Homo sapiens: one gene and its partners. The protein of the gene in region 2 purifies or fractionates together with the protein of the main gene of each other region. This does not show direct contact. Each region holds a gene or a part of one and is shown on either strand. Other genes may lie near its edges. The genes, in order: ASAP1, ASPSCR1, AGL, PLAA, PEX7, UFD1 and YTHDF2.

Region 1 (3,500 bases), on a different chromosome or scaffold from region 2:
TTTTTTTTGAGACGGGGTTTCACTCTGTTGCCCAGGCTAGAGTGCAGTGGCATGATTACGCTCACTGCAGCCTCGATCTCCAGGGCTCAAGCAATCTTCCCGCCTTAGCCTCCCAAGTAGCTGGGATCGCAGGCATGTACCACCATGCCCAGCTAATTAATTTTTATTTTTTATAGAGACGGTTTCTCTGTATGTTGCCCAGGCTGGTCATGAATCCTGGGCTCAAGGGAACCTCGCACTTTGGCCTCCCAAAGTGCTGAAATTACAGATGTGAGCCACTGCACCCAGCCCCATTTTAATTTTTTTGAGACAGGGTCTTGCTCTGTTACCCAGGCTGGAGTGTAGTGGTGTGATCACAGCAGCCCTGAACTCCTGGCCTCAAGCGATCCACTCGCCTCTTCCCAAAGTGCTGGGTACTGTAACATTTTATAACAGAATGTGAGGCAGGTAGAGCTGCCATGTGCAATGGGAGAACTTCTGGATATAGAGTAGGAAACATTTCATGAAAATGACAGAATATGAGATTTCTACAAAATTCTATGCTATTCTATTATATCGAGAGCTTTATCTCCAATTCCTTTAGGAAGATGCAGCGAGAAAGTCTGACTTAGCAACTCAGGGAGCCAGGTGCAGTGGCTCACGCCTGTAATCCCAGCACTTTGAGAGGCCAAGATGGGAGGAGTGCTTGAGCCCATGAGTTCAAGACCAGCCTGGGCAACATGGCAAAACCCCATCTCTACCAAAAATATTAAAAAAAAGCCAGGCGTAGTGATATGTACCTTGGTCCCAGCTACTCAGGAGGCTGAGGTAAGAGGATCACCTGAGCCTAGGAGACTGAGGCTGCAGTGAGCTGTGATCGCACCACTGCACTCCAGCCTGGGCGACAGAGCGAGCCCTTCTCAAAAAAAAAAAAAAAAAAAAAAAAAAAAAATAGAGAGAGAGAGAAAATACCCAGAACCCCGAGAGGGAAATTGGTTTCTCGTGACCCTCAGGAAAGGAAAAGTTTCATCCTCAAGGTTCCTAGGTAATAGTGACTACTTGCTCAGTGGTCTAGGTGCCAGCCAAGTGCTGCTCATTTGTCACTGTATTTAATCATCTGTGAGCTCAAATATTGTATTAGCTCCTTTTTGTATGTGAAGAAAGTAAGACTCAGAGAAAGTAACTTGCCAAGGTTGTGCAGTTATGTCAGGCACTGAAGCCAGGTCTTGAAGCCTGTCTGCTGGAGCCTAAAGCCTGGGTTTGTAACCCACAGGCTCTAATCCACCATCATGCTTGAACCAGAGCACATAAGGGTCAGGTGAGCAAGCTCTCACTTTTTCTTGTGTAAGTTGGAGCACCTGCCCTCCCACCAACTTGCAAAGTGCGGAATAGGGTTCCTAAGGGCCTGAACATTGTCCCACCCACCGTATTGATTTTTCTGGGCAGTGGTACGGGCGTCTCTGGCAGAGTAGGCGTGAGGTCGTTGGAGTCTTCAGATGCTTGCTTTTGGATGGCGTCTCTGGACTGCACATTTGGGGATAGATCCAATGGGTGTGACTTCAGTGTGACCTCAGAGGGTTGCTGAGCCTTGGGTGAGACATCTCCAGTCTGGGATTTTGCTAGCAGGTCTCCCAGCTGTGGTTTGGGGGGCAGGTCCTTCATCTGTGGTTTGGGAGGTAAGTCTGAGAGTTGGGGTTTGGGTGGCAGGTCCCCCAGCTGTGGTTTGGGGGGCAGTTCTCCTGGCTTAGGCGGCAAATCTCCAATTTGGGGCTTGGGGGCCAGTTCTGTGGGCTTTGGGGGCAGGTCTCCAGGTGGTGGCTTTTGTGGCAACTCTGCCAACTGTGATGATTTCTGAAAGATTTCGGGCGGGATGGTGGCTTTGTCTAGGGAGAGATGATCTGTTTTCCTTAGTGCCACTGTGGAAGCAATCAAAAACAAGGAGGTCATTGGTGGGAAGGGCTGCTTTCCTGTCAGTCACCTAAAAGAGGCACCATCATCATGAAGGGAACTGACCTATAGTGAGCACTTGAAATGGATGAACTCAGGGGCCAGGCCCACCCAGGCAGTTTTACAAAGACAAAGTTTGAAAGCCTGGAAAGTGTTACAATTCATGATTTTATGCTTCAATTATATAAGAACAGGATGTCTACATTCATCCAGAATTAAAAAAAATAAATAGAAACAGATTGCAGAGAATCGGAAAGTACAGAGTTCTTAAGCCTAACACCTAAATGTAGCCATTTAAAATTCTTTTATATAGTTCCTTTTAATTTTCCTATATATTTTCTATAGATATAACTTTTACTTGCTTTTATCTAATACCATTTTAGCAACAGTATTTGTCATGTTATTAAAAATTATTTACTAGTTGTATGTAATTTTGAATGGTGCATTCTATTCCATTCTATAGCTGTATCATAATTTATTATTATTTCTCCCCATTTTACATGATTCATGCAGTATATAAGCGAGGTAGCAAAAGGCTTCTTCTACTTTGTGCCCCTGTCTCGGGTTAACCTCTGTTACATTTTGGTGATACACACGCGTGTGCTATGTCTTTTAAAAACCATACAAGGGATACATAGTCTGAAACTTTGCTTTTCTCCCACTTACTATGTTTAGGAAAGCTCCAAATCAGTTCTTTTTTATTCTGTTTAATGGCTGCACAGTATGCACAGCTTAGGAAATGTATCAATTTGTTGACCCATTTCCATAGCTCTTTGTACAGCTCTTGGTACTTAGAAAACTATGGACATGTCTCCAATTTTAGCTCCACCACTTACTAGCTGTGTGAATTTGGGCAAATTACACAACCTCTCTATGCTGCAATTTACTGATCTCTTAAAACCCTACTTCAAAGGGTTGGCATGCAGATTACATGGGTTAATATATGCAAAGAATTTACTGACAAGCCCTGGCAGGCTGTAAGCATTATGCAGTAGTACTACCATCACTGTTAGGGTTCTTTAAGGCCCTATTACAGTATTACATTCCTGTTTTACTCATTTTTGTAACTTTGGCTCCTGGCACAAGGGCCAAGGACATAGCCTGCACTCAGGGAGGAAACAGCTGACTAAGGCACACTGAGTGACTCACATTAGGAATTTGATCCTAAAAATATAACGTATTCAGAAAGACATTCTTAAAGAAGGAGAAGAAACAGATAAACCTCATGTTGTAAATGTCACAGGCTGTACTAGGGCTGTTTCTGCTCATGACCTGTCTAGTCATATCTCTAAAAAAGTCAAAATCAAGGGGCACCCTGCTCACAGGCTGGTCCCTAAGCTTCTGCTGAGGTGGCTTGGCTCTAAAAGTTAATTTACATGAATCTCGTTCCTCTCTTGGAAGTCTGAAATTGGCTAAGAAACAATCTGAGCCAGGCAGTCAAGAGGGAAAAAGCTAGGGGGAATCCCTGAGGTGGTGGGGCTAGAAAGGCCTTGGCTGTGAGTCACACTGATGGGGCAAGAGAAACTCTAAGTGCCAGGCATGGAAAACCTTCAAAATACCCCACCCTCTTCACC
Region 2 (3,500 bases):
AATGCCGGCCCCACCTCTCCAGACACCCTCGGCCCCTCCCCAGTGGCAGCCCCAGGCCACTCTGGGCCATTTCCTTACCTCCATCCCCATCTGAGGACTGACAGCACAGCCAGGGAGGACGGCCCTCACCAAGCACCTGTGCCTGTGGGAGCACTGGATTCTGTTCACGCCCGGGGGCACCGCCCGGCCCAGGGGCATTTCCTTCCAGACGTTCATCTTTCCTGACTTCTGTTCCCCGCGCTGTTTGGTTTTCTTCTTGCCCTCTGCCACTCTCGTCTCAGGAAGCAGCACAGAGCCAGGGCGCCGGGATCCCTGCTTCTCACCCAGTGCCCACACAGCGCCTGGGGCTGCCTGCCTCCCTGCCCGGCGCCACTCCTGGCTCGGGTCCCGCTCACCCCTGCCCGTGGCTTCGCTTTGCTCTCAGGCTCCGTCATCTCCTGCCTCGGGTCCCGCTCACCCCTGCCCGTGGCTTCGCTTTGCTCTTAGGCTCTGTCACCTCCTGCCTCGGGTCCCGCTCACCCCTGCCCGTGGCTTCGCTTTGCTCTTAGGCTCCGTCATCTCCTGCCTCGGGTCCCGCTCACCCCTGCCCGTGGCTTTGGCTTTGCTCTTAGGCTCCGTCACTGTTGTCTGAGTTCCGTTTTGGGAGGGAGAATTCCGTGCTCGTGCTTAACCCGCTGCCATCTCCAGGGGCCTCCATTCACCCCGACAGCCACTGGGGTGGCTTCCATCCCCATGACCACTGAGACCCGACGTGCAGACCTCAGCGCTCTCACCCACGAACGCAACACCCGTGCCATGCAGCGCGGCACTACTGTCAGACGGGAGCAGGCCCAGCCCTGGGGCCACCAAGCGCGCCCAACGCACAGTCACCTTCCCAGCGCCCGACGCGCGGTCACCTTCCCACAGGCCCTATGCTCGGTCCTCAAGACATGAACTCACCCCATCCACACACCAGCCGGGGCACAGGTGAGGAAACTGAGGCCCGGGGAGGGCGAGAACCCCCTGGCTCACAGCAAACCCCAGCCCCAAGTCCCTTCCATTCTGCTGAGCCTTTTACTGTGGACAGAGACTTCCAGCCAACGATGAAAAGACCCAAATTGACAAAGCACCAATTTTTACACATTCAGGAACAACGTTTAAACCATTAACCGACAGAAACTGATACACATCAATTACTTATTTTTATTTATTTATTTTTTTGAGACAGAGTCTCGTTCTGTTGCCCAGGCTGGAGTGCAGCAGTGCGATCTCGGCTCACTGCAACTGCCTCCACGGCTCAAGTGATCCTCCCACCTCAGCCTCTGGCATAGCTGGGACCACAGGCACGCACCACCATGCACTATGCCTGGCCTAACATTTCTATTTTTTGTAGAGAAGGGGTTTCACTATGTTGCCGAGGCTAGTCTTGAACTCATGAGCTCAAGCGATTCGCCAGCCTCGGCCTTCCAAAGTGCAAGCCACTTTGCCCAGCCACTGTGCCCAGCCACTGTGCCCAGCCATCCAATTACTATTAGGAAGATTTTCTGGTGGGGCACAGGAGCTCACACCTGTAATCTCAACGCTTTGGGAGGCTGAGATGGGAGAATTTCTTGAGCCCATGGGTTCAAGAGCAGCCTAGGTGACCAACATAGTGAGACCCTGCCTCTTAAAAAAAAGAGACCTTATGATCCCATCCAGGGGAATCAAGCATGGGGAGCCCTGCCCCCAGCACCGAACGTCTCCCCTTAGTGCTCACCAGGCCCCCACAAGGACAGAAGCACATTCCTGCTCTTCTAGGTGGGCAAGGCTGGGCCGCTGGGCCCAGGAAACTCAGAACGATGAGCTGTGACCAGCCATCCCCGAGGCTGCTGCTCATGAACCGGCAGCCCACACACCCCTCCTCTACAAAGGACTGCAAAGTGCCAAGAGGCACCACAGGCCAGCACAGAGCTTGGGTGTCCAGCTCTGAACCAGACCCAGTAACCACAGCAGCTTCCCCAGCAAACAGGGTAGGGAAGAGCCCCCAGCCCACTGATGCTCACCTGATCTGTGGAAAATGGCTGAGAAGCTCCCAGAGGGTCTGGCCTGAACAGAAAGAGTCCTGCAACCTCGAGCCATCGTCCAGCTGCAAAGCGATGCGAACCTGGAGGGTATAAGACATGAGAAACTTCCTTAGGAAGAAAAGCAACTATTCCTTCTAAATCCCAGACTGATTCTCCAGACACAGAGAGGGTGACTGCCCCGCCCTGGCCTCCAGGGAGAGGCTGACCCCCACGGAGAAGGCTACCCTCCTATTCACTCTGGAGTGAGGGCCTTGGAGGCTCCCCGGCAGGGCTGCACCAGCATGCGTGTGTGCATGTGAGTGTGCAGGTATGTGCAGGTGTGCGTGCGTGTGTGCATATGTGTGTGTGGGTGTGTGCGGGGGTGTGCAGTTGTGTGCAGGTATGTGTGTGGATGTGTGCATGTTGGTGTGTGGGTGTGTGCAGGTGTGCGCATGTGCGTGCAGATGTGCGTGTGTGTGCATGTTTACATGCAGGTGTGTGCGGGTATGTGCGCAGATGTGTAGGTGTGTGTGTACAGGTGTGTGCGTGGGTGTGTGTGGGGGGGAGGTGTGTGCATGTTGGTGTGGGCGGTGTGTGCAGGTGTGTGGGGGGGTGTGCACGCAGGTGTGTGGGTGTGTGCAGGTGTGTGGGGTGTGTGCGGGTGTGTGCGGGTGTGGGGGTGTGTGCACGTTGCTGTAGGGGTGTGTGTGGGTGTGTGTGGGGGGTGTGTGTGCGGGGGTGTGCAGGTGTGTGTGGGGTGTGTGCAGGGGTGTGTGGGGGTGTGTACGGGTGTGCGGGTATGTGGGTGTGTGGGGGTGTGTGTGGGTGTGTGTGGGTACATGCAGGCGCCACAGGAGTGAACTGTGTTGGAGACAGTCCTCGTGTCCCAGTGGGGGCTTCAAAAGATTGCAGCTCCACCGAACCTGACTGCAGCCTCAGGACAGACACTGAGCTAAGCTGCTCCCAGATTCCTGACCCTCAGAAGCCACATGAGATGGTAAATGTTTGCTGCTCTTTTTTTTTTTTTTGAGACAAAGTCTCACTCTGTCGCCCAGGCTGGAGTGCAGTGGCAGCACAATCTCGGCTCACTGCAAGCTCCGCCTCCCGGGTTCACGCCATTCTCCTGCCTCAGCCTGCTGAGTAGCTGGGACTACAGGCATCCGCCACCACCCACGGCTAATTTTTGTATTTTTAGTAGAGACGGGGTTTCATTATGTTGGCCGGCTGGTCCCAAACTCCTGACCTCAGGTGATCTGCCCGCCTCGGCCTCCTAAAGTGCTGGGATTACAGGCTGCCCTTGCGGCATCCATGCAGCGCTTTCGGCTCTAACATTCTGGGCAATTCTATGAGCAGGTGGTCAGGCTGGTGGGTGAATGCTGCTGACACCCTGAGCCAGGGAAGGCACAACTGACCCCAGAAAGAAAGAAAAACTTCCACATGAAGAATGACGTGGGCGGGGCGCAGAGGCTCACGCCTGCA
Region 3 (3,500 bases), on a different chromosome or scaffold from region 2:
GTTGCTGTGTCTGTGTAGAAAGAAGTAGACATGGGAGACTCTATTTTGTTCTGTACTAAGAAAAATTCTGCCTTGGGATGCTGTTGATCTATGACCTTACCCCCAACCCTGTGCTCTCTGAAACATGTGCTGTGTTCACTCAGGGTTAAATGGATTAAGGGTGGTGCAAGATGTGCTTTGTTAAACAGATGCTTGGAGGCAGCATGCTCCCTAAGAGTCATCACCACTCCCTAATCTCAAGTACCCAGGGACACAAACACTGTGGAAGGCCGCAGGGTCCTTTGCCTAGGAAAACCAGAGACCTCTGTTCACTTGTTTATCTGCTGACCTTCCCTCCACTATTGTCTTATGACCCTGCCAAATCCCCCTCTGCGAGAAACACCCAAGAATGATCAATAAAAATAAATAAATAAATAAATAAATACAAGAAAAGAAAAGAAAGGGAAGAAGGAAGGAAAGAAGGAAGGAGGGAGGGAGGGAGGAAGGGAGGAAGGAAGGGAGGGAGGGAGGGAGGGAGGGAGGGAGGGAGGGAGGAAGGAAGGGAGGGAGGGAGGAAGGAAGGAAGGGATGTTATATTTTCTTTCTGTAGCCCAATAGATATATCAGCGCATACCCCAAGGGATACATAGCCACTCTGTAGACCTCTAATGCAAATCACTGAAACTAAAATTTTTATATACAGTAAATGAAACATCAGAGAGCCTACAGTAGGTCAGATTCCATGACTCAGTTTGCTAAAATTAGCTGAGGTCATAGCAGTACATGGTGTGGCTATCTTATTCCTCATACTAATGCTAGGATACTTAACTTGCATTAGCCATGTCTCTCTTGTAGGCAACTAGCATAATGAGTGATTAAACTATTATTGTAAATAAATATGTTCTATCTTTTCCCCTCCACTCAATTTATAGAAACTCAGTCTTCTAATCAAAGAACCTTTATGTCTAAATATTTTCTTTAAAAAATAGTAAAAATTATAAATTTCATCAACCTACTTAAAAGATGGAAGAATTTCAGATTTGGGAAGTACTTATTTTGTTCATTATTCTTTTTTTTTTTTGAGACCGAGTCTCGCTCTGTTGCCCAGGCTGGAGTACAGTGGTGTGATCTTGGCTCACTGCAACCTCTGCCTCCTGGGTTCAAGCGATTCTCCTGCCTTAGCCTCCTGAATAGCTGGGACTACAGGTGCATGTCACCACATCTGGCTAATTTTTGTATTTTTGGTAGAGATGGGGTTTCACCATGTTGGCCAGGCTGGTCTTGAACTCCTGATCTCAGGTCAACTACCCGCCTCGGCCTCCCAAAGTGCCGGGATTACAGGAGTAAGCCACCGTGCTCGGCCTGATTTTATTCATTATTCTACCACTAAATGAGATAGGAAATAAGCGAAAAAGCTATGATTTGTCTAGAAAAGATCATTATTTATTCTTGTACTTGTTGAACTGGAAGAATCTATAGAAATATCAGTCTTAAAAACGAGGAGGAATTCCTTCTTGTAGAAAAGAGAGAAGGAAAGAAATATGAGGGCTTTGATGACCAATTAAATATGAAACAGCCAAAAACTGCCAGAGTTTTTCCTCACATTTGATTGGTTACCAAGTCCTCTGAACTTGAAAATAACTCATACTTTGTCCTCTCTTTTTCTTTTTTCTTTTTTTTTGAGTCGGAGTCTCGCTCTGTTGCCCGGGCTGGAGTGCATTGGCACGATCTTGGCTTACTGAAACCTCCGCATCCTGGATTCAAGCAATTCTCCTGCCTCAGCCTCCCAAGTAGCTGGGATTACAGGCACCCGCCAGCACGCCTGGCTAATTTTTATATTTTTAGGAGAGACAGGGTTTCACCATGTTGGCCAGGCAGGTCTCAAACTCCTGAACTCAGGTGATCCGCCTGCCTTGGCCTCCCAAAGTGCCAAGATTACAGGTGTGAGCCACCGCGCCTGGCCTTGTCCTCTCTTTTTCAACTCAGGCTGTTCAATCCTTTTCTTTAATCAGATGTGTTTTTAAAATAGCCTTCTCAATGCTTCTTGTCTCCAATGTCCCTTCTCTACCACTCTTCCACTCATCTTTCACATTTCAAATTATCTTTTTTTTTTTTTTTGAGACGGCATCTTGCTCTGTCACCCAGGCTGGAGTGCAGTGGCGCAATCTCAGCTCACTGCAAGCTCCGCCTCCTGGGTTCACGCCTTTCTCCTGCCTCAGCCTCCCGAGTAGCTGGGACTAGAGGCGCCCGCCACCAGGCCCGGCTAATTTTTTTTGTATTTTTAGTAGAGACGGGGTTTCACTATGTTAGCCAGGATAGTCTCGATCTCCTGACCTCGTGATCCGCCCGCCTCGGCCTCCCAAAGTGCTAGGATTACAGGCGTGAGCCACCGCACCCGGCTTCAAATTATCTTCTAAAACAAAATGATCACACCATTACTGCAAAAAAAGGTGGCACATTCTCATTTATAACATTTGGATACATTTACCGGTTTTAACCAGAGTTATAAAGTCAACCACATCATTCTTTTTTCATAAATCCTTCAATTTCCCTCTTCAAATAGGTTAGCTTTTACAATTTTTGCTAGTTTTAACTAGAGTTCTAGTAATCAATCAGCAGTACACTGCACTAAGTTTGTAAGGCTGTCCCTATCCTCACAGATTTTATTTTATTTTTTATTTTTTTTTAAGATAGAGTTTTGCTCTTGTTGCCCAGGCTGGAGTGCAATGGTGTGATCTCAGCTCACTGCAACCTCTGCATCCCAGGTTCAAGCGATTCTCCTGCCTCAGCCTCCCAGGTAGCTGGGATTATAGGCATGCGCCACCACGCCTGGCTAATTTTTGTATTTTTAGTAGAGAAGGGGTTTCACCATGTTGATCAGGCTGGATGGTCTCAAAATCCTGACCTGGGGTGACCCACATGCCTCGGCCTCCCAAAGTGCTGGGATTATAGGTGTGAGCCACTGCGCCCGGCCCTTTATTTTTGTTTTTTAAAGACAGGGTCTCACTCTGTCACCCAGGCTGGAGTGCAATGGTGGGATCATAGCTCACTACAGCCTTTAACTCCTGGGCTCAAGAGATCCTCCAGCCTCAACCTCCTAGGTAGCTGGGGACCACAGGCAAGCACCATCATGCCCAGCTAATTTTGTTTCTTTTTTGTGGAGATAAAGTCTTACTATGTTGTCCAGGCTGACCATGAACTCCTGGCCTCAAGTGGTCCTCCAGCCTCAGCCTCCCAAAGCACTGAGATTACAAGTGTGAGTCACCTGCCCTCATCAATTCTCACAGATTTTAAACCCTAGTCTGACACTGTAAGACTAACAAGCCTTTAGACACTGCTTCATTATTCAGCACTTAATAGTTCTGTGCTCATTGTGTAATTGGAAATCAAAGGAAGCAGACAGTGAAAAATTAGGGAAAGACTTCACAAAGGAGGTGATATTCTAGCTGAAAGTTGAAACTTAGGCAACACATAGACTGACAGTAAATGAGATTTAACAGATATAAAGGAATCTGATGGGA
Region 4 (3,500 bases), on a different chromosome or scaffold from region 2:
AACTGGCGATTTAGGGGACATCAATGCTGAGCAGCTTCCTGGGAGGGAACATCTTAATGAACCTGGTAAGTATTTTATTGTACCTAGTAGAAAAAATTCACCATATTTGGCTTTTGGAACAATTAGAAGAAAAATAAATGTTGTTTTGCTTGTGTTTTTCATTGCTAGATGCTGATTTTTGAGGATTTTTACTATTACATATAATCACTATGAGAAACCATGTTCTTGCCTCTGTCTCACAGAAGACTTTGAATTAAGCTTCTCATAAACAGGAATTAAAAAATAAATCTCCCAACACTTAGATCATTTACAGTAGACACTCAAAAGGCACTCATTTAATACTTTTTGGTTGATTGGATTCTCTGAGAGGGGTTACAAACTGAATATTAAAATGAGTTTAAATACGAAATTAGCCAGGTGTGATGGCATGCGCTTGTAGTCCCAGCTACTCAGGAGGCTGAGGTGGGAGGATGGTTTGAGCCCAGAAGGTTGAGGCTGCGGTGAGCCGACACCACACCATTGCATTCCAGCCTGGGTGACAGAGTGTGACTCTGTCTCAAAAAAAAAAAAAAATGAGTTAAAATCAAGCATTGTCTGTGTAATGAGTTGGGAATCATTCGAGTTTGAAATCAGAAGACCGTAGTCATCTCAAATGAAATCTTGGGTTGGATGTATCTCTTGATTGCATTATTATACCAGTGCTTCTCAAAGCTTGATTCATGGACCTCTGGGGATTCTGAGATCCTTTCAGGATGTCCATGAGGTCAAAACTAATTTTTGTAATACTAGATATTATTTGAATGTTGTACATTGTATTAATGTTTGCACTTATGGTGCAAAAACAATGGTGGGTAAAACCACTGGTTCACTAGTATGTAAATCAAGCCAGGGGCTTTAAACCATTCTGGTAAGTTACTATGTTCTACTTGCATGCAGTTGTAGTTTAAAAAAAAAAAACAATAAAAACAAAAAAAAACAGTTTGCCATTAAGCATGTCCTTGATGAGGTATTAATATTAAGAATTATCAGTTTTATTACATTTTGACACATCTTTTTAAATATTCCGGGTGAGAAAACCTAAAGTAGACATAAAGTAAGTCAAAATACTGTGGTGTCTCAAAGAAAAGAACATGCGCAGTCATTTGAGTTGCAGGCTAAACTACCAGTTTTTTCATGGAGTGCTATTTTTATTTGAAAGAATGACTACGGTTATTCAGGCTTTGGTATTTGGCAGACGTTTTTTGAAAATGAACAAATTGAGCATGTTCCGTCAAGGAAAATAACTGATAATATATGTTGCCAAAGATAAAATTCAAGTGTTTGAGTGAAAATTGAAATGTAGGAAAAATGTATCTCCACCAGGAACTTAGTAGCTTCCCATTTGTATTGATACTAGTGGTAATAACATTAACAAATGCCATTTTTTAATATTGAATAATAAACTGTATGAATATGCAGAAGATCTGCGTAAGTTATTGAACCATTATTTTCCATATGACTAGTATCTGATACCATCTCAGACATGGGTAAAAGATCCATTCAAAGTACAAGATAGACCAGTGGATTTTAGTATAATAGAGCATGAAAAATTCATTGATGTGGTTTCAGATTGTACACTGTAGCGTTTAAAAAACTAGTATTTCTGGCCTATCCACATTTTCTGAAAAGACTTGTCTTCTCTTTTTCAACTACCTACGTGTGTTAGGCTGGATTTTCTTTTTGTAGTCAACCAAAATAACAAATTGAAACAGATTAAGATGGGGTAAGAGGGGAGATTAAAGTATGATGGACTAGGCCAGAACTGGCATATATCACATCCACCCAGATTCCACTGACCATTACTCAGTAATGTGACATCATGTGACTGCCCAATGCAAGGGGACTAGATAATGTAGTCTCTGGCTAGACAACTACAGCTGTATCTAATGGAAGAAGAGCATGATTCTTCGGAGGATGGATAGCTGTCTCCGCCACTGAAGGCCTTGTTGAGAACATGACATTTGTGTAAAGTTGTTAAAGAGGGAAAGGAGCAAATACTGCCAATATCTGTGTGAAGAGCATCATAGGCAGAATAAACAGCTAATACAAAGGCTCTGTGGCTGAAGTTGGGAGATGAGGGGACAGGGGGAATAGTAGAAAGTAAGGTCATGTAGGATAGTGTGGACAATTTATATTTGGTCTTGTACACTACTCAAGAGTTTAGGCTTTTACCAAGTGAGATGAAAAGCATTGATGGGTTTCAAGCAGAAGAGTGTCAGGACCTACTTAAACTTTTGAAAAAATTCCTGAAGTTGCTGGGTGGAATATACACTGTCGGGGGCCAAGAGTACAGGAAAGAGGCCGTTGAATCAACCCAACTGAGAAATGATGGTGGCTTGGACCAAGGGATGATGATGGAGATATTAAGGAGACAGTTTTCTAGATATATTTTAAAGAATGAGCTGATAGCAGTAGCTGAAGGGGGTGCTGAGAAGTAGCCGAAGGAGCGATGGGGTTGAGAGAAAGGTATCAGGCTTTTCTACTTTTCAGTTTGAGCCACTGGATTAATGGAGAGCCATTTACGGAATGAAATGTGTTAGGAAGATATATTCACTAATAAAACTTGTTTTATTTTTGATGGGCCAGTTGCTTCCTAGTAGAATCACGTTTTGTTAACCTTCCTTTGATTAATAATATTTCCTTTTAACTGTTATTTTCTTTTGGCCACATTTTTAAATCTTTTATTTGATACAATTTTATTTTGAAACAAAATCCATATTCTCTTATGTGTAAATTTTAATGTTAAGAATTTTCTATTTAAATGTTTTTCAATTTTACATTGCCATTCTACCTTTGATTCTTAAAATTTTTATTTTAAGGTACTAGAGAAGGACAGACTCGTCTAATCAGAGATGGGGAGAAAGTCGAAGCCTATCAGTGGAGTGTTAGTGAAGGGAGGTGGATAAAAATTGGTGATGTTGTTGGCTCATCTGGTGCTAATCAGCAAACATCTGGAAAAGTTTTATATGAAGGGAAAGTATGTCGACTTCTACTTTCTAATTACTATTGTCTTAAATATTAGGCAAATTAAAGGTTTCCTTTGCCCCATAGTGATAAAATTTCCTTTGTTTTGACATTTAAAAATCCATTACTGTGGGAAACTAATCTTTTTTTTCCCTGTCTTGAAATAGATATTTTAAAAGTATCTTTCCATGTAGTGAGAGCTGCATTTGAGAGACAAATTAGCAATTGTCTGTCATGTAGTAGTTTCTATACAAAAGCTGTTCCCAGCCATTTTGGATTGGGAGCTTCTGTGCCACCTTTCATCAAATGCCTCATGCCTGGCTATATTTAACTTGACAAGACATGAGAGACCCTGCAGGGCAGTGCTTAAAATGCCAGCACGTTTTGGTGAGTAGGGCACAGTAACAGCTGATAATTTTGATCTTGATATCAAACCAGTTGGAAACTCTGCTTTGGCTCTAGAGTTAATATGTAGTTGTAATCCATCCTTCATCCTC
Region 5 (3,500 bases), on a different chromosome or scaffold from region 2:
TTATTAAAAAATAAAACAGAGCACTGTGTCTCCTATGTTGCATTGCAGCCAGAGAAACTTAAAATATTAACTTAACTAAAAATTTAGAATTTTTGGCCAGGCACAGTGACTCAGCCTGTAATCCCAGCACTGTGGAAGGCTAAGGCAGGCAGATCACTTGAGGTCAGGAGTTCAAGACCAGCCTGGCCAACACTGTGAAACCCTGTCTCCACTAAAAATACAAAAAAATTAGCCGGGCATGGTGGTGCACACCTGTAGTCCCAGCTACTCAGTAGGCTGAGGCAGGAGAACAGCTTGAACCCAGAAGGCAGAGGTTGCAGTGAGCTGAGATCGTGTCTGGGTGACAGGGCAAGACTCCATCTCAAAAAAAAAGAAAAAAAAATTTAGAATTTTTTAAATAGTAGGAATAACATAATTACCTTATTAAAATAATCAATAAGGTACTTTTTTATCCTTAACGTAAAAAAACAAAAGGATGAAATTGGGAGATGTCACTTAATAAGATGTTTTCCACAGTCATTTAGCAGAACCTGCCTAAATATAAAAGCCAGGAAACCAACCTAAGTCATCTTATAACCCAGATAAATTTACTGAGACCATCATTAAAAATTTACCTCATCCTCTGCTGTTCACAGAGTAGAAAACTTTCTATATCCCAAACATCTGTGAACAGTCATGTATGTTATCATGTTAGGAAAAAGAAAGAATTAACCATCTCTTTACATCTGTTTCAACAAAGTAGAGACTCTCGCTAATTAGAAACTTATAAAGAACATAATACTAAAAGTGAATTACTATAGTTAAAAAAATATATTAAAGGAAAAACAGATTGGAGGTGAAAGAATGAGAAAAAGATTTTTATTTAACCTTAAGTATTGAATGTCTACATTGCCCAAATTCATTCAATCATTATTCAAATATTTTTGCCTAATTTTAGCTTTCACTACTAATTAATTGGGTAACAAAAACACATATAAAAAAGAATTAGTAACTCCAATCCCTAAACCCAGAACACTTTTTAATATACACTTCATTGATTATATTTATATAATTTTATTCTACATATAAAAGAAAAGATGAAAACTTACTTTCACCCTCCTAATAGCATAGGTATGACCAAGAAGTTCAAACACTGGTTGTCGTACATTCCTTAAGTCCCAGCCTCTCAAACTACAGTCAACCGCCCCGGTCACCAGCAAATTCTAAAAACAATTCAGAGAAACATAAACTGTGACATCTTTGCAATTAAACAGTATGCAGGCTTTCCTACTAGAAACAACATCTGCTTTCTGATAACTATTTAATATGAACCAAGGAGTCATTTTTGAGAAGTTGTATAACAAGTATAGACAGGAATCAACATAGACATTAATAGCAAAAAACTAATATGACTTGTGAGAAAAAGAACTCAATATGCTTTATGTACACGATGGAACACTACAGACAGCTGGAAAAGGCATAGTTCCAAACAGCATTGTGGATTTTCTAATTCAGCTTTAGAAGCGGCAGTAAATACATAGGGGATTAAAAATTTTATCTGACAAATGAGCCCAGCTTTCTCTTCAAAAGGTTTTCCCTGGAATTCCAGCACCTTGGGAGGCAAAGGTGGGAGGATCACTTGAGGCCAGGAACTTGAGACCAGCATGGACAATAAAGCAAGACCCTGTCTACCCAAAAAATTAGCCAGGCGTGGTAACACACACCTGTAATTTTAGCTACTTGAGAGGCTGAGTGAGGCAGGAGGATTGTGTGAGCCCAAGAGTCAGAGGCTACAGTGTGGTATGATCACCCCACTGTACCTCAGCCTGGATGACACAGCGAGACCCTGTCTCTAAAAAAAAAATAAAAATTTAAAAAAGGTTTTCAAGGCTGGGTGCGGTGGTTCACTCCTATAATCCCAGCACTTTGGGAGGCCAAGGCCGGTGGATCACTTGAGCCCAGGAGTTTGAGACCAGCCTGGGCAACAGTGAGACCTCATCTCTAAAAAACAAACAAACAAAAAGGGTTTCAACATACTCTGAGGTTTTTCCAGGCATTAAAAGGCAAGAGGTCTGTTCATTTAGGCACATCTGAAAAAGCAAAGGCTATGAATTAAATTTTTCCATGTTCTCTAAATCTAAATTAATCATTGTTTCCAACTCTCTTGGACCAAAATTCTTAATACGATATCTAATCATATCCAAGAATGTAATCAAATAGTGGTGAGTCTCTTATCTATTCCGGCTTTACAAATTCTGCTATCTAGAGCCCCAAGTGAACCCAGAGGTCCTGGCTGAATAGGACAAGTGCTGGGTCCACACTCAGTCCACCCCACATAACTCAGAACAGCAATGGATTTAAGTTGGCGCAAAAGTAGTTGCAGTTTTTGCCATTGAAAGTAATGGCAAAAACTGCAACTACTCTTGCACCAACCTAACATTGTCTGACTATGTTGGGCTTTAGTTTAAGCTAATTTGAAGAAAAGTTTCAGTTATTAGAAAATAATTTTTGTAAATCACTCTCAAATGTCTATCAGCATCTTTCTTTAGAGTTCCCAAACATCTAACATACAGGCCATAATTAATTTTCCAATATGAAACATTCATTTATGAGTTTGAAACTATAGTCATCAGCATTGAAATGTTTAGATTGAGTAATATCATTGTATATATACTATATTTTAACTTATTTTACTTATTTTTATTTAAAGAACTCTGCCAATACAATGTTCTTTTAACTTTAATTAATTTAAAACTGGGAAAAAAACAAAGCATACATTTTACCTATTTGTCACGGTCAACAGACCACTTCAGGGACATAAATACAGTCATGCATCACTTAATGATGGGGATATGCTCTCAGAAATGTGGCATTAGGCAATTTCATCTTTGCGTGAACATCACAGAGTGTACTTACACAAACCTAGGTGGTACAGCCTAGTACACACCCAGGCTAGATGAAACAGCCTATTGCTCCTAGGCTACATGCCTGTCCAGCATGTTACTGTACTGAATACTGTAGGCTACTGTAACACAATTGTAAGGCTTTCTGTATCTAAACATAGAAAAGGTATAGTAAAAATATAGTATGGAAGATAAAAAATGGTAGTAGGGTCCTTACCATGAATGGAGCTTACAAAACTGGAAATTACTCTGGGTGAGTCAGTGAGTGAATGAGTAGTGAGTGAATGGAAAGGCCTAGAACATTACTGTACACTAAATTTATTTTTTATTTCCTTTCTTCAATAATAAATTAACCTTAGCTCACTGTAATTTTTTGCTTCATAAACTTTCTAATTTTTTTTAAAGTTTTTTGTTGTTGTTGTTGTTGTTGTTTTGAGATGGAGTCTTGCTCTGTTGCCAGGCTGGAGTGCAGTGGCGTGATCTTGGCTCACTGCAGCCTCTGCCTCCCAGTTCAAGCGATTCCCCTGCCTCAGCCTCCCGAGTAGCTGGGACTACAGGCGCCTGCCACCATGCCTGGCTTTTTTTACTTTTTGACTCTTCATAATAACAAAACTTAAA
Region 6 (3,500 bases), on a different chromosome or scaffold from region 2:
GCTGAACTGTGTGCATTTTATTGTATACAAATTATACCATGGGATTTTAAAAAATCCTGTGGGAGTACTAAAGAACAAAAAAGATTTAATGAGTCAGATAGGTCCTCTCAAAAGTTCCTCAAAATCAAAGATGCTTTCATTTATACTTCTGTTGTTTCTATCTTTTGAGCTGATAACTTTAGTTAATAGAAATTAAAATAAAGAAACCAGCAAATACTTTTTATAACAGTAAAACTGTAGAACCCAAATGCCCACACAAGGAAATGTCTATTCATGTGGAATATTTTGCCATGTCTTCCTCATCAATTTGCTGAAGGACTTTACATAAAAAGGTCACATGAAATGTGGCTCCAGAGCCTGCCACTGTGAGTCCAACTTGAGGGTGAAAGGGTGAGGCTATCTAGGTTCACCTCGCTTGGTCAAACAGCTTTCCAGAACCAGAGCAACTTTGTGAAAAGCGCCTTATGTGGTGGATGCTTTCTTTGCTCCCAAATATGAAGTGCCACGGTACGAAGTGCCCTTCCCTCCACTCCTCTAGTGACCCTGCCAGGGCATCTTCTCTGACTTCCACTGCAGCAGCTGGAGGAGCAGAGCCAGAGCCCTCAGGCTGAGAACACGAGGCCTCTGCAGGCAGGGCGGGCTCCCCATATGGCCTCTGCGTACTCTGGCACCTGCTGCAGCACCAGCTTCCCACTTTCTCTGCTCGGTGCCAAGACTGCTTTCATCCAGACCTCAGCCAGACCAGAAAACACCAGGCTCTCAACTGATGGAAGTGACGCCCTTTCTCCACACACTAACAAGTTAATTGTGCTGACAAAACAGCATCTGAGATCAACCTGATAAGTCTGCATTGGGGCAGGGCGCGGTGGCTCATGCACGTAATCCCAGCACTTTGGGAGGCTGAGGCAGGTGGAGCACCTGAGGTCAGGAGTTCGAGACCAGCTTAGGCAACATGGTGAAACTCCGTCTCTACTAAAAATACAAAAATTAGCCGGGTGTGGTGGTGCACACCTGTAATCCCAGCTACTCAGGAGGCTGAGGCAGGAGAATCACTTGAATCTGGGAGGCAGAGTTTGCAGTGAGCTGAGACCGTGCCACTGCACTCCAACCTGAGCAGCAGAGTGAGACTCCGTCTCAAAAAAAAGTCTGCATTGCAACACATGTAAAAACCCTGAGAAAATGGGCATGGCCCATTCCTGGTCACTGACAGCCAAACAAGCATGTCTAGGTCAGAGCTCTGAAGGACAAGTTAACTAGCTCTTCCCATAGGACATCCCCCTGCCTGTGGGACAGGAGGCTCAACAAGGCCATCGTGTCCAGAACATAGGCAGCAAAGAATATACATGGCCCATATGCATCCAGAGCACACCCAGCAGTGCCTTGCTCCTAAGAAAACATGCGGAGAGAGCGCTACTGGGAAAGGAGGCAGCTTTTCTTAACTTCCTATCTGTCTGTGTTGTTTGACTGTTTGTTTTTTTTTTCAAGTATGCATTAAAAAAAAATAAAAAAAAAGAAGTAGAATGGAGTGGCCACTCTTATGCCATGATCGTAACAGGAAAAATCAGGGCCATGGAGCTAGAGATCTTGATTGGTGCACACAGCACCGTCCCGTACCTGCACTGCCTACTTCCTGATGCTGTCAACACATACACCTGGCTTAAGTTCAGAGGTGAACAAAAAGAATCCACTAGAACCTGATACCTTTGCTTTCTGCTTGGTGACATAGAAACTGCAGTCATTGCTACCTATTGGCCTGGAGTGAATCAGCTCTCAGGCTGGCATGCAGTGAGGTTGACGGGCCAGTGCACAGCTGGGCGGAGGTACTAGGGAGCCACAGAAGGGGCTGGAGCTGAAGGCAGATAAGCTGCTCCCTCCTTCCACTGGACATACTGTGCATCCTGGCTTTGTGCCAGGTGACACAGACCAACTGAAAGAAGGGCTTCATTGTGGTCTCCATGAAGTGTCTGGAAAGTGACAGAGGTGGCCCAGACAGCACCCAGTGCACTTGGCCAGGGCCACGCAGATGTGCTAGCTGAACCCCATTATTCTCAAATCACAACTTGAATCACAAATGTGTGATCCCCAAAGCAGGCACAGATTCAATACAGTACATGATGTTTAACAACCGCCAGCACACTCTCCTTTGTCTAGAAGAACTCCGCTTATTTGAAAAAGATACACGGCTTTGGGGTTGGTGATGTCCAGGAAGTCAGGGCTCTGAGGTTGGAATTTGGAGTAGGTGGCCACTTGAAGGTTGACGCTCTCCACCTGGACCAGGCCGCCTTCTTCCAAGAGTAAGTTCTGCATCATCTGAAAGGAAGAAGAGGCTACATGAGACTCCTAGAGATGAAGCAGCCTCCACAACCACTGCTCCCTATACACTGGGCAGGCCCGTCTTACTTGGGTCCTTGGAAGAGGAACCTGAGCCAAGATAAGTAATTCGTGATACTATGTCAGGAAGGAGGGAAAAATCAAGTGATGTGGAAGGAAGAAGGCCAATAAAGGGGTGCTACTGAAGCTGTATAGCTCACAGTGTGAACGCATCTCTGCAGGGCTGCCCGGATTACTCACTAGCTCCAGGCTTCCCAGGGGCAGAGCATTTTCCTGGAATAGTCACTCACTGTACTTCCAAGCTGTCCCACAAGCAAATTATAAGGCCCTGCGTCAAGTAGGGCTGCACCTGAGGTAGGACAAAAGCAGCACAAGGCAAGGCTGACCTGGCAATGGAATGGCCCACCACAGCTGAGGCTGCAAGATGGTGACAGACCCCAGAGGTCTCTGCTAAGGAGGTTATAAAAATCTGACAAAGCCTCCACATGTCTCTATTAAACAACCCAGCCAGGTAGACGACGGCTGAGAAGTGAGACGGAAAGAGATAAACAATGCCCATGAGTACTGGGTGTGCAGGGAGTCCAGACTCAGGTCAGAAGCTCTATGTCTCTTGCAATGAAATTTTGCTTGTCTTATTTGAAACCGTCTTAAAAGGGGTGTCAGACATATACATCAGTAGAAAGAGCCGTAGAAGAGAGCTCCCACGCACCGAGCCCTGACAGTTGGACAGTGCTCACGTCGTGGCTCAGTCCATCGATCAGCACTACCTCACACCCAGTCCCAAGCCACATTAGATGCCCTGAAGCAAATCCCAGGTATCACATCCCTTCAAGAATGTTTCATCGGGAGTGGCAGTGAGAAGGTGACTTTAACAGCCAAGGGAAAAGGGGGCTGAGGGCTGTGTCACAAATGAGAGGGAGCTCATGAGGAGGGAGAGGCATGCTGAGGCCGAGGCTGTGCCTGGGAAGCCGTGCCTAGGCCATGAGTGAAGCCTGAGTGGTGGGCCCTATGGATAGGCTTGCAGAGGACCCCATGCACTCACGCTGACAGCTGCTTGTCAGGCTAGTAAGGGCAGAAATAGAGGGTGGTCACTCTACCAAATGCCACAGGCAGGCACAGAAGGATGCAGAGGTGACTGGCTTTGGTAACGGGGGTCTGGCATCCCCAGG
Region 7 (3,500 bases), on a different chromosome or scaffold from region 2:
TTTTTTTTGTTTTTTTTAGTAGTGGGGGTTTCACCATCTTGCCCAGGCTGATCTTGAACTCCTGACCTCGTGATCCACCCACCTCGGCCTCTCAAAGTGCTGGGATTACAGGCGTGAGCCATCGTGCCCGGCCCCAATTTTTTATTTTTAGTAGAGATGGGGTTTTGCCATGTTGGCCATGCTGGTCTTGAACTCCTGACCTCGTGATCCACCCACCTCGGCCTCCCAAAGTGCTGGGATTACAGGCGTGGGCCATCGTGCCTGGCCTCAATTTTTTATTTTTAGTAGAGATGGGGTTTTGCCATGTTGGCCATGCTGGTCTCGAACTCCTGACCTCAGGTGATCCCACCTTCCTCGGCCTCCTAGAGTGCTAGGATTACTCGGGTGATCCACCGTGCCAGGCCTTAATGTTTTTTTGTTTTTTGTTTTTTGTTTTTTTTTTAAGATGAGGTCTCGCTATGTTCTCTAGGCTGAAGTGCAGTGACTATTCACAGCTGTGATCATAGTTCATTACAGACTCAAATTCCTGGGCTCAGATGATCCTCTTGCTTCAGCCTCCCAAGTAGCTAGGACTGAACAAGGTGTAAGGCCCTCTGTTCCTGGTTTAAATTTATCTTCACCTGTTACCCAGGCTGGAGTGCAGTGGTGCAATCTCGGCTCACTGCATCCTCCTGCCTTCAGCCTCCCCAGCAGCTGGGACTATAGGTGTGTGCCAGCATGCTGGCTAATATTTGTATTTTTTTTGTAGAGACGGGGTTTTGCCACCTTGCCCAGGCTGGTCTCGAACTCTGGCCTTAAGTGATCCACCTGCCTCGGCCTCAAAGTACTGAGATTACAGACATGAGCCACCACACCCAGCCTGTAATTATATAAACATTAAAGTGTTATTAAGTGTTAAATATAACTTAGTGCACCTAACTTTTTTGCAGAAGAAATAAATTCATTTCTTCCCTTCCCCCCAGTTTTATGTTTTGAAATACATTTTTAAAAAAAGTTTTGAGAGACAGGGCCTCTGTCACCCAGGCTGCCAGGCTAGAATGTAGCGGTGGCATCATAGCTCACTGTAACCTCTAACTCCTGGGTTCAAGCTGTCCTCCCACCTCAGCCTTCCAAGTAGCTAATCCAAGTAGCTAGGATTACAGGCACGCACCACCACACCCAGCTAAGTTAAATTTGTTGTTGTTGTTGTTGTTGTAGAGACAGGGTCTCACTATGTTGCCCAAGGCTGGTCTTGAACTCCTGGCCTCAAGCACGTCCCCTGCCTCAGCCTTCTAAAGTGTGAGTGGCAGATGTGAGCTACCATGCTGGGCCTTGGAATAATTTCAGATTTACTCTTCCACATTTTGCCACATTTGCTTTATCATTTGAATGTTTTTAAAATGTGTATATATAATGTTTTCCTGAGCCAGAGAGTTACAGTCTAGACATCATGTCTTTTCTCCTAGGTATTTTAGTGTGTAGTTCCCAAGAACAAAGACATGCAGTTACATAACCACAGTGCATTTATCAAAATCAGGAAATTTAATTGACACAATGTTGTTACCCACAGATCTTATTCAGACTTTATCAGTTGTCTTAATGTCCTTGATAGCAATTTTTTTGTGGTCCAAGTTCTAGTCCACGAACATTTGGAGACCGTGGTTTCATGTCTCCTAAGTTGTTATTTGTTGTTTTCATTGTTTTGAGATAGGGTCTCATTCTGTTGCCTAGGCCAGAGTGCAGTGGCACGATCATGGCTCACTGCTGCCTTCATCTCCCCGGGCTTAAGTGATTTCCCAGGTTGCTGGGACTACAGGTGCATGCCACCACACCCAGATAATTTTGTGTGTGTGTATGTGTGTATGTATGTATTTGTAATGTAAGACAAGGGCTTTGCCAGGTTGCCCAGGCTGGTCTTGAACTCCTGTGCTCAAGCTATCTGCCAGCTTCCGCCTCCCAGAGTGCTGGGATTACAGGAGTGAGCTATTGCGCCCAGCCCTCCTAAGTCTGTCTTCACTGGTTTCAAGTCTGTCTTCACTGGTTTCAAGTGAGGTTGTATCCTTCTCAGTGCATCATACTGGGAGGTACAAGATGTCTGTTTATGCCATTACTGATAATGTTAACTTTGGTCACTTTGGGTAAAGTGTTGTCCACCAGGTTCTCCACTTAATTTTTTTTTTAATACGTGGGAAAATAGTTGACACTATGTAAATAACTTGTTTCTCATCAAACTGTCTCCTTTTAATTCTAGCATTGATAATTCTTGCTTGATTCAGGTATTACTATGATAGGTGTTTACTTACCATTAATATTACGTAATGCTCAAGTCACAGATTTGGCCAGTGGGAGGTCCTTCAAGAAGGAGCCTACTGATGCCCTGGCTTCCCACTCTGTTTCCAATCTATACTTTTCCTTCTCTTTTTTTTTTTTTAATGATGGGGTCTCATTTTGTCACCCAGGCTGGAGTACAGTGGTGTGATCAGGGCTCACTACAGCCTTGACCTCCTGTGCTTAAGCCATCCTCCCAGCTCACCCCCCAAGTAGCTGGGACCACAGGCACATGCCACCACCATGCCTAATTAAAAGATTTTTTTTTTTTTTTTTGTAGAGACAGTGTCTCCATATGTTGGCCAGGCTGGTCTTGAACTCCTGGCCTCAAGCAGTCTTATCTGCCTTGGCCTCCCAAAGTGTTGGGATTACAGGTGTGAGCCACCACTTCTGGCTGTTTTGGTATTGTTGTGTTAAAATTGAGAAAGTTTGACTTTTGAAGCAATATTGAACATAGGTATTTGTGAGACTTAAAATTGCACATTATAAAGAGGAACAAATTTGGTGTTTAAAGAATGAGACAGTGCTGTAGTAAATATAATTGCATGATGCTGTTTTGAATTTTTTCTTGACTATTTTAAATGCTATTAAGTATGCCAACTAACTTAAATATAAACATGTTTCTTAGGAAAAAGGACATCTATAGTCTAAGTTTCTAATTCAGTGTTACAATTTGGGACAAATAATTTATTGTCTGTATTTCTGGAGTTACATTAAGAGATAATAGGTGGAATTTCATTTTATTTATTTTTATTTTATTTATTTATTTATTTATTTTTTGAGATAGAGTCTCGCTTTGTCGCCCAGGCTGGAGTGCAGTGGCACGATCTCGGCTCACTGCAAGCTCCGCCTTCCGGGTTCACGCCATTCTCCTGCCTGAGCCTCCTGAGTAGCTGAGATTACAGGTGCCTACCACCACGCCTGGCTAATTTTTTGTATTTTTAGTAGAGATGGGGTTTCACCGTGTTAGCCGGGATGGTCTCGATCTCCTGACCTCGTGATCCGCCCGCCTCGGCCTCCCAAAGTGCTGGGACTACAGGCGCGTGCCACCACGCCAGCTAATTTTTGTATTTTTAGTAGAGACGGGGTTTCACCATGTTGGCCAGGATGTCTCACTCTCTTGACCTCATGATCCACCTGCCTTGGTAAAAATGTAAAATTTAAAAAATTCTGAGGCCGGGCGCGGTGGCTCA

Evidence for each region.
Region 1: the proteins of ASPSCR1 (region 2) and ASAP1 fractionate together in Homo sapiens (co-fractionation; one large-scale study listed by BioGRID). This does not show direct contact.
Region 3: the proteins of ASPSCR1 (region 2) and AGL fractionate together in Homo sapiens (co-fractionation; one large-scale study listed by BioGRID). This does not show direct contact.
Region 4: the proteins of ASPSCR1 (region 2) and PLAA purify together in Homo sapiens (co-immunoprecipitation; one large-scale study listed by IntAct). This does not show direct contact.
Region 5: the proteins of ASPSCR1 (region 2) and PEX7 purify together in Homo sapiens (co-immunoprecipitation; one large-scale study listed by IntAct). This does not show direct contact.
Region 6: the proteins of ASPSCR1 (region 2) and UFD1 purify together in Homo sapiens (affinity purification with mass spectrometry, with the first as the bait; one study listed by BioGRID). This does not show direct contact.
Region 7: the proteins of ASPSCR1 (region 2) and YTHDF2 fractionate together in Homo sapiens (co-fractionation; one large-scale study listed by BioGRID). This does not show direct contact.

Annotation. Positions count from the first base shown.
Region 1 is NC_000008.11:130,059,175-130,062,674, forward strand, and holds part of ASAP1 (arf-GAP with SH3 domain, ANK repeat and PH domain-containing protein 1), read right to left. Parts: intron 1,896-3,500; coding exon 1,405-1,895; intron 1-1,404. UniProt on the Homo sapiens protein: Possesses phosphatidylinositol 4,5-bisphosphate-dependent GTPase-activating protein activity for ARF1 (ADP ribosylation factor 1) and ARF5 and a lesser activity towards ARF6.
Region 2 is NC_000017.11:81,984,129-81,987,628, reverse strand, and holds part of ASPSCR1 (tether containing UBX domain for GLUT4), read right to left. Parts: intron 2,123-3,500; coding exon 2,022-2,122; intron 1-2,021. UniProt on the Homo sapiens protein: Tethering protein that sequesters GLUT4-containing vesicles in the cytoplasm in the absence of insulin. Modulates the amount of GLUT4 that is available at the cell surface. Enhances VCP methylation catalyzed by VCPKMT.
Region 3 is NC_000001.11:99,853,361-99,856,860, reverse strand, and holds part of AGL (glycogen debranching enzyme), read right to left. Parts: intron 1-3,500. UniProt on the Homo sapiens protein: Multifunctional enzyme acting as 1,4-alpha-D-glucan:1,4-alpha-D-glucan 4-alpha-D-glycosyltransferase and amylo-1,6-glucosidase in glycogen degradation.
Region 4 is NC_000009.12:26,919,743-26,923,242, reverse strand, and holds part of PLAA (phospholipase A-2-activating protein), read left to right. Parts: coding exon 1-65; intron 66-2,858; coding exon 2,859-3,016; intron 3,017-3,500. UniProt on the Homo sapiens protein: Plays a role in protein ubiquitination, sorting and degradation through its association with VCP. Involved in ubiquitin-mediated membrane proteins trafficking to late endosomes in an ESCRT-dependent manner, and hence plays a role in synaptic vesicle recycling.
Region 5 is NC_000006.12:136,867,592-136,871,091, reverse strand, and holds part of PEX7 (peroxisomal biogenesis factor 7), read right to left. Parts: intron 1,203-3,500; coding exon 1,089-1,202; intron 1-1,088. UniProt on the Homo sapiens protein: Receptor required for the peroxisomal import of proteins containing a C-terminal PTS2-type peroxisomal targeting signal. Specifically binds to cargo proteins containing a PTS2 peroxisomal targeting signal in the cytosol.
Region 6 is NC_000022.11:19,465,694-19,469,193, forward strand, and holds part of UFD1 (ubiquitin recognition factor in ER-associated degradation protein 1), read right to left. Parts: intron 2,311-3,500; coding exon 2,180-2,310; intron 1-2,179. UniProt on the Homo sapiens protein: Essential component of the ubiquitin-dependent proteolytic pathway which degrades ubiquitin fusion proteins.
Region 7 is NC_000001.11:28,764,440-28,767,939, forward strand, and holds part of YTHDF2 (YTH domain-containing family protein 2), read left to right. Parts: intron 1-3,500. UniProt on the Homo sapiens protein: Specifically recognizes and binds N6-methyladenosine (m6A)-containing RNAs, and regulates their stability. M6A is a modification present at internal sites of mRNAs and some non-coding RNAs and plays a role in mRNA stability and processing.